Linked DNA regions of Homo sapiens: region 2 is linked to region 1. Evidence: fine-mapped expression QTL. A gene starts in region 1. The other region holds a variant in brackets. All regions are shown on one strand. Distances are from middle to middle.

The links. PIP is the estimated chance that this variant, and not a neighbour inherited with it, causes the effect.
Region 2: its variant is fine-mapped to the expression of PITPNM2 in fibroblasts (GTEx, PIP above 0.99).

What each region holds. Positions count from the first base shown.
Region 1 is chr12:123,148,920-123,154,154 of GRCh38, reverse strand. It overlaps PITPNM2 (phosphatidylinositol transfer protein membrane associated 2), which reads left to right and starts at 3,065. Exons shown (of 26, transcript NM_020845.3): 1 at 3,065-3,402. It also overlaps a transcript of MPHOSPH9 not described here. RefSeq lists silencers at 2,682-2,881, 2,902-3,161, 3,182-3,321, 3,422-3,511.
Region 2 is chr12:123,122,304-123,127,538 of GRCh38, reverse strand. The region is part of intron 1 of PITPNM2 (phosphatidylinositol transfer protein membrane associated 2); the gene reads left to right. Among named protein-coding and RNA genes, the nearest start is that of PITPNM2, 26 kb to the left of the region's middle. The variant T/C (reference allele first, on the strand shown) is at 2,611.

The DNA.
Region 1 (5,235 bases):
CTCCCCTGATGCCTGGATCTGCCCCCTTCCTTTCCCTTGCTAAGCCTCTGTTTGCAGGAGCTACTCCTGAGGTATGGAAATGGTCTTTGCAACTGAAGGACTTTTCCAACTGAAGCAACAGATGTAGCTAAAGTGGCCGTGCTAGGGTTGTGCAGAGCTGGGCTCAGGGGACAAGAAAGGAGAGACTTGGAGCCAGAGAGACCTGGGTCACATCCTGGCACAGGCCTGCCTTTCTCAGCTATAAGATGAAATAAGAAAACTCCTTTCATTAAGGGAGATTTTGTAAAGTGCCTGGTGCTTAGTAAGTGCTCAAGAAATATTATATTTCAGATTCATTGAGTTAAGTAGGTTTTTGAGGTAGCATCCTTTTTTTTTTTTTTTTTTTTTTTTGAGATGGAGTCTCTAGTTCTGTTGCCCAGGCTGGAGTGCAGTGGTGTGATACTGGCTCACTGCAACCTGTCTCCTGGGTTCAAGCTATTCTCCTGCCTCAGCCTCCCGTGTAGGTGGGATTACAGGTGCATACCACGCCTGGTTAATTTTTGTATTTTCGGTAGAGACGGGGTTCTCACCATGTTGGCCATCCTGGTCTTGAACTTCTGACCCCAAATGATCTGCCTGCCTTGGCCTCCCATAGTGTTGGGATTACAGGCGTGAGCCACTGCGCCCAGCCTTGAGGTAGCATACTTTCTGAAATAAAAAAGTAGATTATGTCCGAAGCAGTTGACCTAAAAACTGCCTTGGACTGACATTTGTTAGGTGGTCTAAGATGTTCTCTTCACGCTTTGCAAAAAAATGAGCTTTTTTGGAGTTTAAATTAAGCATCCCTCTGGTGTGTTTGGTTTTTTAGCCACCAAAAATTTAACAAATTTGATAACCTGTCACGTGTAAGTTCAGAAAGCACTTTGGTCTTAATTGGTGACTTGGGGGTTATTTGGTATAAATATAGGTTGTTTTTCTAAAAATTATTGCCAGTATCCTCCAAATAATTGCCCCTTCAAATGTTTCATCTAAAGGTGACAGCTTGTGGGCAGAACCATGCACAGGAAGTGCCTGCCAGTGGGTGTTAGGAGATGTAGGTGGAGTCTGTGATAGCCAACCAAAAGCTATCCCCTTCTCGCCCAGAAAAGCCACGTGCTTTGCTGGACGCTACTTGAAATCTGAACTCTGCACCTACATATGTAGTAAAATTAGACACTTTTGTCACTTTAATTTTTAGATTATCTCAAGTTTTCACTAGATTTCAATGTGCCACTTGTGCTATGAGTCTTTAAGAAGCTTTAAAAAATAAATGCACACCTGTAGCCTTTTACCATTCAGACAGGTAGATTATATTTACCTGTCATGAGGGACCATGTATGGTTGACAGTTGCAGGTTTGATTAAATCCACTATATTGCACAAATTTTGCTGGAAATAATTTCCTGCCCTGCCAAGAGCTCTATGGTAGTTTGATAATAAACTACTACCCCAGTATTCTTAGGAACTGTGTTACTAAGTCTTTTCTGCCTGATTTGTACTTTATTTCCATAGACCCCTCAGATATGTGAGGAATCAAGCCATAAATGTGCATTTGCTGGACATTATGTACCATGTCATCTCTATGACTACAGATTTCAAGGATAATTTTTACATCTAACAATTTCACTGTAACAGTGACCGATAATGTGAGAAATGTGCTTTTTACAGTGCTGCTGGTGGGTAGACAAGTGCTTGCTGCAGTTGTTTCTGAATCTAGCCAGATGCTGGAGTCGTGAAGCTGTAAGCTCCGCGGGAGCAGGGACCATCTCTCTTTCTTGCACTACAGGCACTCAATAAATACTTGTGGCTGTGAACTGGCGTGTGGCCTTTGTGTGTTTATTTCTGCTAGCTGGCTGCAGGAGCGGGTTGTTGGTGATTTTAAGTCCCAGGCATAGAGAAGTCCTTGAGTTATGGGTTAAGGGGCGTCCATCCAGGAGCACAGTTCCCGTTGGGACTCTGTGGGCTCCGCAGATCTTTCTGGATGGATCCTAGGGCACCTCTTGGTGGAGGGAAGGAGCTGAAGCGTTCTAGGTGATGGTGGTACGCCTTGGTCCTCCTCTGCGTGGTCATGGTCAGGGGCACCTGGAGGCGAGTCGGGAACGATGGCCTTCCTGGCCCGTTCAGTTGGGTTCTGCCGTGACCCCAGGAGGTGAGCAGCTGTCAGGGGCTCGGCCTCCCCGGCTTCATCTGGAGTCATCTAGGCCGCCTTAATTTTAGCTTGTCCTCTCTCCTCCAGGGGAGCACCGCCGTCTCCTCAGCCTTATAAGGTGACAAGTAGGGATGGGTCACACATCACTAAGTTTTAGGTGTGCTCTCTTTAGTTCCATGACTTCAGATTTTGCCAAACAAGTCCACCCTGGCTCAACCTAACAAACACCTCATGTTTTTAAGGAATGTCACCAGGCGCTCCCCCACCGGGGGCTCTTCCCATTGGAGAGCCCTGTCGTGCCAGATCATCCGGATTAAACTGTTCGTGATCCTCTTCCAGCTACTCCCTGAGGTGGGGACCGGGACGGCTGCGCTCCCGGCTCTGCCGTTCCCTGGGCCGCGGCCCGGGCGTCCTGAGGGGAGAGCGCGGACCCACCGTGTGGCGAGCACCGCGCCCGGGGCTGGGCTTCGGTGAGCTGCCCGCTGCGCTCTGCCCTCCCTGGTTTACCATTTCGCTCCTAAGAAACTTCATTTTTTAAAATGAGGCTGTTTTAAGAGTCACAGTGGCCGCAAGTCGGCCGGTTCCCGCCCCCGAGTGCGCTCGGCTGCTGCGGACGGTGGGCGAGGAGCCCGGGGCGGGGATCCGCGCCGCCGCCCCCGAGTCCAGTCCCGGGCCCTGAGGACACGGGCGAGCCGGGGAGGAGCGGGGTCGCCGCGGCAGGTCTGAGGAACCAGGCGGGCTGCCCGAGTCGGAGAGGTTTCTTCCGGCGGAGGCGGCGGGGCCGGGCCGAGACTCCGCAGGGACGCGCCCCCGCCGCCGCCGCCGCCGCTCCCCCGCGCGGCCTGAGGAGGCGCCGCCGCCACTGAGGGAATGCGAGCCCGGCCCGGCGCGCGCGGGCAGCAGCGGCCGCTGGGGTGCGCGGGGCACCGCGGCGCCGCGGCGTAGAGCTGTCCAGCCGGCCCCGGCCGCCCGCCCGGCGCTTCCTTCTCAGCTCGCGGCCGCCTCAGCGAGAGCCGCCCGCCAGCACGTGCGCCGCCGCCGCCCGCCTGCGACGCTCGGGAGCAATGCCCGCCGGGGCTCTGCCGCTCGCCCGGGGCCAGCAGGCGGCGGGGGCGCGCGGGGCGCAGCCGGCCGGGCCGGGGCCGCGGGGCGGGCGCTCCCCGTGAGGCGGCGTGAGGTGGCGGCGGCCCAGCCGGGGCCCCGAAGAGGACAGAGCCCGCGGCCGCGCCGAGCGGGGTGAGTGCGTCCGGGCGGCCGCTCCGCAGGCCCGCGGTGAGTCCCGCAGTGCCGGGCGCTGGCCGGGGACCTGGGGATCTGGGCGGCGGCTCCCAGAGAGGCCCCGGCCCGCCCGCCCGCCGAGCCTCCAGCCCGCCGGGGGCTGGAGGAGGGAGCGGAGACCCGGGCAGGGAGGAGGGTGTGGCGTACGGGAGCCCCGCTCGGGAGACCGCCCGAGCCTGGCCTCAGTGAGTCGCCGGCCCTGGATCCGTGCCCGAAACGCTGATTTCCGAATTTCCGTCGGTCGCGACCGCGTGGGGGACCCCCGCCAGGGACAAGTGTCATAGCGGTCGGGGGGCAGGCGTGGGCAGTGCCGGTGCCAGGGCGAGGAAGGGGCTATCGGGAGGAAGCGGAGGTGAGCCCCCGGCCCGCCTTCTCTGCTTCCCGCCTCCAGCTGAACGTCCCCAGGCCCGGGCCGTGGCCTCTGCTTGTCGGGGGCCCAGGGTTGGGGTGTGGCCCGTCTCCATCCTCAGTGCCCCCTTCGTGTGGTAATGGGGTGCCGGCTCTGTCTTCTTCCCACCCCGAATCCTTTCTTATCCGTGGCAGGGCTGATCGGGGGGCCTTGGGGAGAGGGAAAGTTCAGTGTCCCCCGCCCCAGTGTGCACTGCCTCCCCGCAAGAAATCCCAAACGGCCACTCCAGGTGAACATAGTGCGCGCGGTGCAAATGTCATTTCAAGGCAAGTCCTCCAGGCTTGTCCCCTTTCCACCGACTTGCTCCTGCAGAGACATCCTGCACTCCTCTCCCTCCCACTGAAGTGTGGGCTGGGTGCCTCTCCAAACACCCCGGCCTACCTGCCTCCCCCACCCAGAGTCGGGATTCTTCAAAGGAGACCTCACTGGAACATCTGTCTTTGTCCACAACCAGCTCTCTCCCCGGCCTCCACCTGGGAGTGACCAGAGCTGCTAGGATAGACCCCCCACTTCTGGAGGGAAGGCAGTAAGTGCTCCCCTTCATCTGAATCTCCCCTAACATCCATCCCCCAGACTCCTCTCTGCTCTGAACTCCCACTGCCTGCTATCTGTATCTCCTGTGTAACTCTTATCACCGTCTGCCTTATTTTATAGTTACTTTTCCATCTGCCTTATCTCCCCTGCTGGACGGTGAGCTCCCGGGCTGGAGTTGATTCATCTCTGGTCTCCTGCCCTGGTCAGTACCCTGCGTGGAGTCAGTGTCTCCGTGGAGCAGAAGGCCCCTCCAACGCTTGCCTCTGGGACCATAGCTTGTCTGATTCCTGGACTGTTGCTGTTAAATTACTTTCCTTCCATGAAGGGACTGTATTCTGTGGTTGGAATGGACTTCCAGCCCTCTCCCACTGCAGAGAGAAACACAATGAGTTAGGAAGGGCTGTTTTTCTTGTAAGGAGTGGCTTGCCAAGTGAACAGGACAGTACATCCTCTGCCCTGAAGATGGCCAGGCAAAGACTCCAGATTCTCTGGGTAGTGAGTGTTGAATGGGCCATTCTCTCTCCTGGTCTTCCCCAGCTGCTCAGGCGTGGGAGGCAGCAGGGGAGAGAAGTGGACTGCGGGAGTCGAGAGACTGGGGTTCCAGGCCTGGCTTTTCCCATAACTTGCTACAGGAGCTTAACTAAGTCACTTGGTTTCTCTTGGTTTTGGTTGCACCTTATGGAATCTGAAAGAATTCCTCTGCGTATCTAAGGCCCCCTGGGATCTGGGTCCTGTCTACCTTTTCTGCCTCCTCTCCTACCATTTCATTCATACCCTAAGCTGCAGTCCTCTCAGGCTACCTAGAGGCTTTCAAAGGCATGGTGCTCCCATGCCCTCCCTCTCCCCAG
Region 2 (5,235 bases), 27 kb after region 1:
TTGTCTTAGGTTTTCAAAGTAGACAAACTCAAAATTAATTAGAATAAGACAGTATGGCAGCCTGTTGCAAAATAAGTAGGCAAACACCATTGTTTTTCTATGCGTCAGTGGAAACCATTGTTGAATTTGATGGGTAGGAGCACCTCTAACACCTGTTTGCTTGGGCATCAACACGCCAGTGACCTTATTTTCTGGTTAGAAACAAGAGTAACACCCGGACAGTTCAGGCAGCTGCCAGCACCTCCTGGGTCCCCTGCGACCTGGACTCCCAGGAAATGGAGGGCAGCGGTGTAAGTGGCGTGATGCAGGGTGTTCAGCATCTCTCAGTGGGGTTATTCTGAGGACTCTTCCAGAATGTTTTGAACACATTTGTGCACCATTAAGTCGTTGTCACAGAGCCTGGAAGTCCATTATTTCAAGCTCAACTCATCCTGGATGATGGATGTGACTTGAGGAGGGATGAACCATTCGTGCATTCTCCAAGGGCAGGGCTCTCAGAAATTCCCTGTAGCTTTGTGGTCCCTTGCCCTGGCATCCCCTAGACCACCATGCTGAGGGCAGTGTTTGGACGAGACCCCAGTGAACAGAGCCTGGTTGTTGGAAGTAAATCTTTTGCTCCTGCTGGAAACCAGAGAACAGACACTGCTTCATCACTGCTGTCATTCATGCAAGCTTCATCACATTTTCCCAGTCATTATCCTGATCTTTCTCAAAGGCAATTCTTGCCTCTCTTTCAATCAACAGAGAACCCTAGAGATAATTCAGTCTTTGAGGGATTGCTGAGTCATTCAGCTGACTGGGGCTACCATGATGAAGCTGAAGTTCCAATGTCATGAATCAGGCTGTTCTCGGAGGCCACGGAAGGGGTGGATGGATGTGTGTCTGCCAGCTGTCCCACAGGCTGAACCCATCATGCTGGCCATACTTCCTAAGTCATCCTCCCTCCTCCCTAGTTCTTTTTCTTTACTCACTCAGTGTGGTTTTGCTACTTTTAATTTTCTGCCTTATTTTAACCATAGTGGTTTGCATGACCACCAGAGGGGTCAGTGTGCAGTTCTCCTAGGACTAAAGCCCTCCAGCTTTGTGACAGCTTTTCGCCTGAAGCTTGGTGGTCTGATCTGCAAGTTGGCCCTCTTCTAAATGGTGGGAGTTGTAGTCAGCTTGCTTGCCAGACTGGATTGTGGAGAATAGTAGGGCAAGAGTGAGAGGTTAATAGGGCAAGAATTCCCAAGCTTACCCAAGGATATGCATCAATCCCTGCAGAACCCTTAGCAGTTATATTCAACTCACTGAAGGGTCTGCTTGGTTTTTAGATCTTCTTTCTGATTCTTTAGGGATATGAGGGTCACAGGATTAAAAGGTAGAGCCTAGGCTGGGCATGGTGGCTCAAGCCTGTAATCCCAGCACTTTGGGAGGCCGAGGCAGGCGGATCACAAGGTCAGAAGATTGAGACCATCCTGGCTAACACAGTGAAACCCTGTCTCTACTAAAAATACAAAAAATTAGCTGGGCGTGGTGGCGGGTGCCTGTAGTCCCAGCTACTCCGGAGGCTGAGACAGGAGAATGGCGTGAACCTGAGAGGCGGAGCTTGCAGTGAGCCGAGATCACGCCACTGCGCTCCAGCCTGGGTGACAGTGCGAGACTCCATCTCAAAAAAAAAAAAAAAAAAAAAAACCCTAATTTTTTTTTTTTTTTTTGAGACAGAGTCTCGCTCTGTCGCCCAGGCTGGAGTACAGTGGAGTAATCTCGGCTCACTGCAACCTCGGCCTCTGGGGTTCAAGCGATTCTCCTGCCTCAGCCTCCTGAGAGCTGGGATTACAGGTGCCTGCCACCACGCCCAGCTAATTTTTGTATTTTTAATAGAGACGGGGTTTCACCTTGTTGGTCAGGCTGGTCTCAAACTCCTGACCTCGTGATCCGCCCCCCTCGGCCTCCCAAAGTGCTGGGATTACAGGCGTGAGCCACAGCGCCTGGCCTGTACCATGCATTTTCTTTGCGTTCTGCTATTCCAAAAGAAATATTAAATATTGGCATTTTAAAACATAAAATAATTAGAATTGAAATTTTAAAAACTCTTGTTAAATCTGTAGCATCAACTTAAATGAACCATCAGTGGTGTGCATCATCCTTTGATATGACTGAGTCTGCTTTTTGTATCCAGATATCAATTATTTATTTGTTTTTGCTTCTACCTAACTTCTTCCTTCTCTAACAATTCAAGACTCACAATTTTCTAGGATTCAAAGAACATTGTTTTTTGAGTGCTTTAGAATCATTTACTCATTCATTCTTTCACTTACTAAAAAACATTTAACATTTGGGAGGTTGAGGTGGGCAGATTGCTTGAGCCCAGGAGTTTGAGACCAACCTGGGCAACATGGCAAGACCTCATCTCTACAAAAAAAATACAAAAATTAGCTGGGCATGGTGACACATGCCTGTAGTCCCAGCTACTTGGGAGGCTGAGGCAGGAGGATCAAGGGAGCCCAAGAGATCAAGGCTGCAGTGAGCTGTGATGTCACCGCTGCACTCCATCTGGACTACAGAGCGAGACTCTGTCTCAAAATAAAAAAAATTTTTTTAACGAAACATTGAAAAGGCTATGCATGA[T/C]AGTGCACCAGACATTAGCAAGATTCTAAAGATAAATTAGATACATTCCTTATGGAACTTACAAACTCATAGATTACAGTTCAGTAATAAAATATAAAGATCATATATATTTTAAATATTATTTGGGTAAGTAAGTAATGCATTATACTTGGTACCGAAGTGAAAAGCAGCTACAGGCAAACATAAGACTTCTTGCCGGGTTGGGGGATGGGGGAGGGATAGCATTAGGAGATATACCTAATGTAAATGACGAGTTAATGGGTGTAGCACACCAACATGGCACATGTATACATATGTAACAAACCTGCACGTTGTGCATATACCCTAGAACTTAAAGTATAATAATAATAATAAAAAAGACTTCTTGCCACCCCTGTCTTCAATATCTTAGTTTTCCTTCCCAGAGACAGTGATGGTTGCTAGTTTTGTGTGTGTGTCCTCTTTCAGAGAGATTCTCTGTATATATTAATGTATATTACTTTTTAATTTTTTTTTTTGAGATGGAGTCTCGCTCTGTTGCCCAGGTTGGAGTGCAGTGGTGTGATCTTGGCTCACTGCAGCTTCCGTCTCATGGGTTCAAGTGATTCTCCTGCCTCAGTCTCCCAAGTAGCTGGAATTACAGGTGCACACCACCATGCCTGGCTAATATTTTGTATTTTTATTTTATTTTTTGAGACGGAGTCTCACTCTGTCGCCCAGGCTGGACTGCAGTGGCACAATCTCGGGCTCACTGCAACCTCCGCCTCCTGGGTCCAAGCGATTCTCCTGCCTCAGCCTCCCGAGTAGCTGGGGTTACAGGCATCTGCCACCACGCCAGGCTAATTTTTTTGTATTTTTAGTAGAGATAGGGTTTCACCGTGTTAGCCAGGGTGGTCTCGATCTCCTAACCTCATGATCTGCCCGCGTCGGCCTCCCAAAGTGGTGGGATTACAGGTGTGAGCCACTGTGCCTGGCCACTTTTTAAATTTTAAATTTTAATTTTTTTTTTTTTTTGAGGCAGAATCTTGCTCTGTTGCCCAGGGTAGAGTGCGGTGGTGCGATCTCCACTCACTACAACCTCTGCCTCCTGGGTTCAGGCGATTCTTGTGCCTCAGCCTCCCAAGTAGCTGCGATTACAGGAATGTCCCCCTACACCTGGCTAATTTTTGTATTTTTTAGTAGAGCCGGGGTTTTGTCATGTTGGCTAGACTGATCTCCAACTCCTGGCCTCAATTGATCCACCTGTCTCAGCCTCCCAAAGTGTGGGGATTATAGGCATGAGCCAATGCTCCCGGCCTAAAAATTTAATTTAATTTAATTTTTTTTTGTTTTTTTTGAGAGAGAGAGGGTTTGCTCTGTTACCCAGGCTAGAGAGCAGTGGTGTGATCATAGCTCACTGCAGCCTCAAACTCCTGGGCTCAAGCAGTCCTCCTGCCTCAGCCTCTTGAGTAGCTGGGACTAGAGGCACGTGCAACTGCACCTGGCTAATTTTTTTATTTTTGTAGACATGGAGTCTTGCTATGTTGGCTAGGCTGGTCTCAAACTCCTGGCTTCAAGCAGTCCTCTCACCTCGGCCTCCTAGAGTGTTGGGATTATAGGTGTGATCAACCTTGCCTGGCCTATATTACTTAAAAACAAAGCTAAACACAAATGGCTGCCTATTGTTGTGCATCTGCTTTTTTGACTTCACAATACATAAATCCTGCAGATGGTTCTCTGTTGGCTCATGTAGAGTTGTTCAGTTCTTGTAATGGTGGGCTTAGTATTCTGCTCATGGGTGGACCATCATGTGTTAAACCAGGTCCCTGTTGATGGGGTTTTAGATTGTAAGAGCAGAAGATGGGAAGCAAACAGTGCTGTAGCAGGCATCTCAATAAGTAGGTTTTCATGCAAATATACTCTCATGTCTGTAGAATAAATTTCCAGAAGTAGAATTGCTGGGTCAAGGAGTGTTTTTCTTTTATTTTTGTTAGCAATTGCTAAATTGCTCTCCATAAAGGTAGTACCAATTTACACTCCCACTTACAATGTGTGAGTGCGAGGCAGTGGTTTTCAACCTCAAAACCCCAGGCAAGGAAGAGCTTTTAAGTAAAATAAAAATCTGGAGAAAACTCCTTCTGTGTGAGAGCCTTTTCTACCGCAAAGGGCAGGCTGTAGGGTAGTTCCTGGCATAGCCAGTTAAGACTGTTCATTCCCATTAGCTGCCAGCTTGCACACGACTGAGGGGCTCTTGGGTTTTTGGATTCCTGTAGTCAGGTTGTGGTCTGGAAGATATGTTCCTGGTAAAGGGTGGGGGCAGCAGCTACCTTGCCCCTTCTCTGTCAGCTTGTTTACCACCGAGTATCTGAGAAACACCAGAAGCTAACCTTCAGGGAGGTTATGTTTTTGGGGGAGCTCAGATGTGACCAGGAGGCCTATCAACAGGCTTGCGACTTGGATTTCCCAGATCTGTAAGTTGACGTCATTTCTTTCTTTCTTCTTTTTTTTGGAGACGGAGCCTTGTTCTGTCACCCAGGTTGGAGTGCAATGACACGATCTTGGCTCACTGCAACCTCCGCCTCCCAGGTTCAAGCGATTCTCCTGCCTCAGCCTCCTGAGTAGCTGGGACTACAGGCGTGTGTCACCACGCCCGGCTAATTTTTGTAT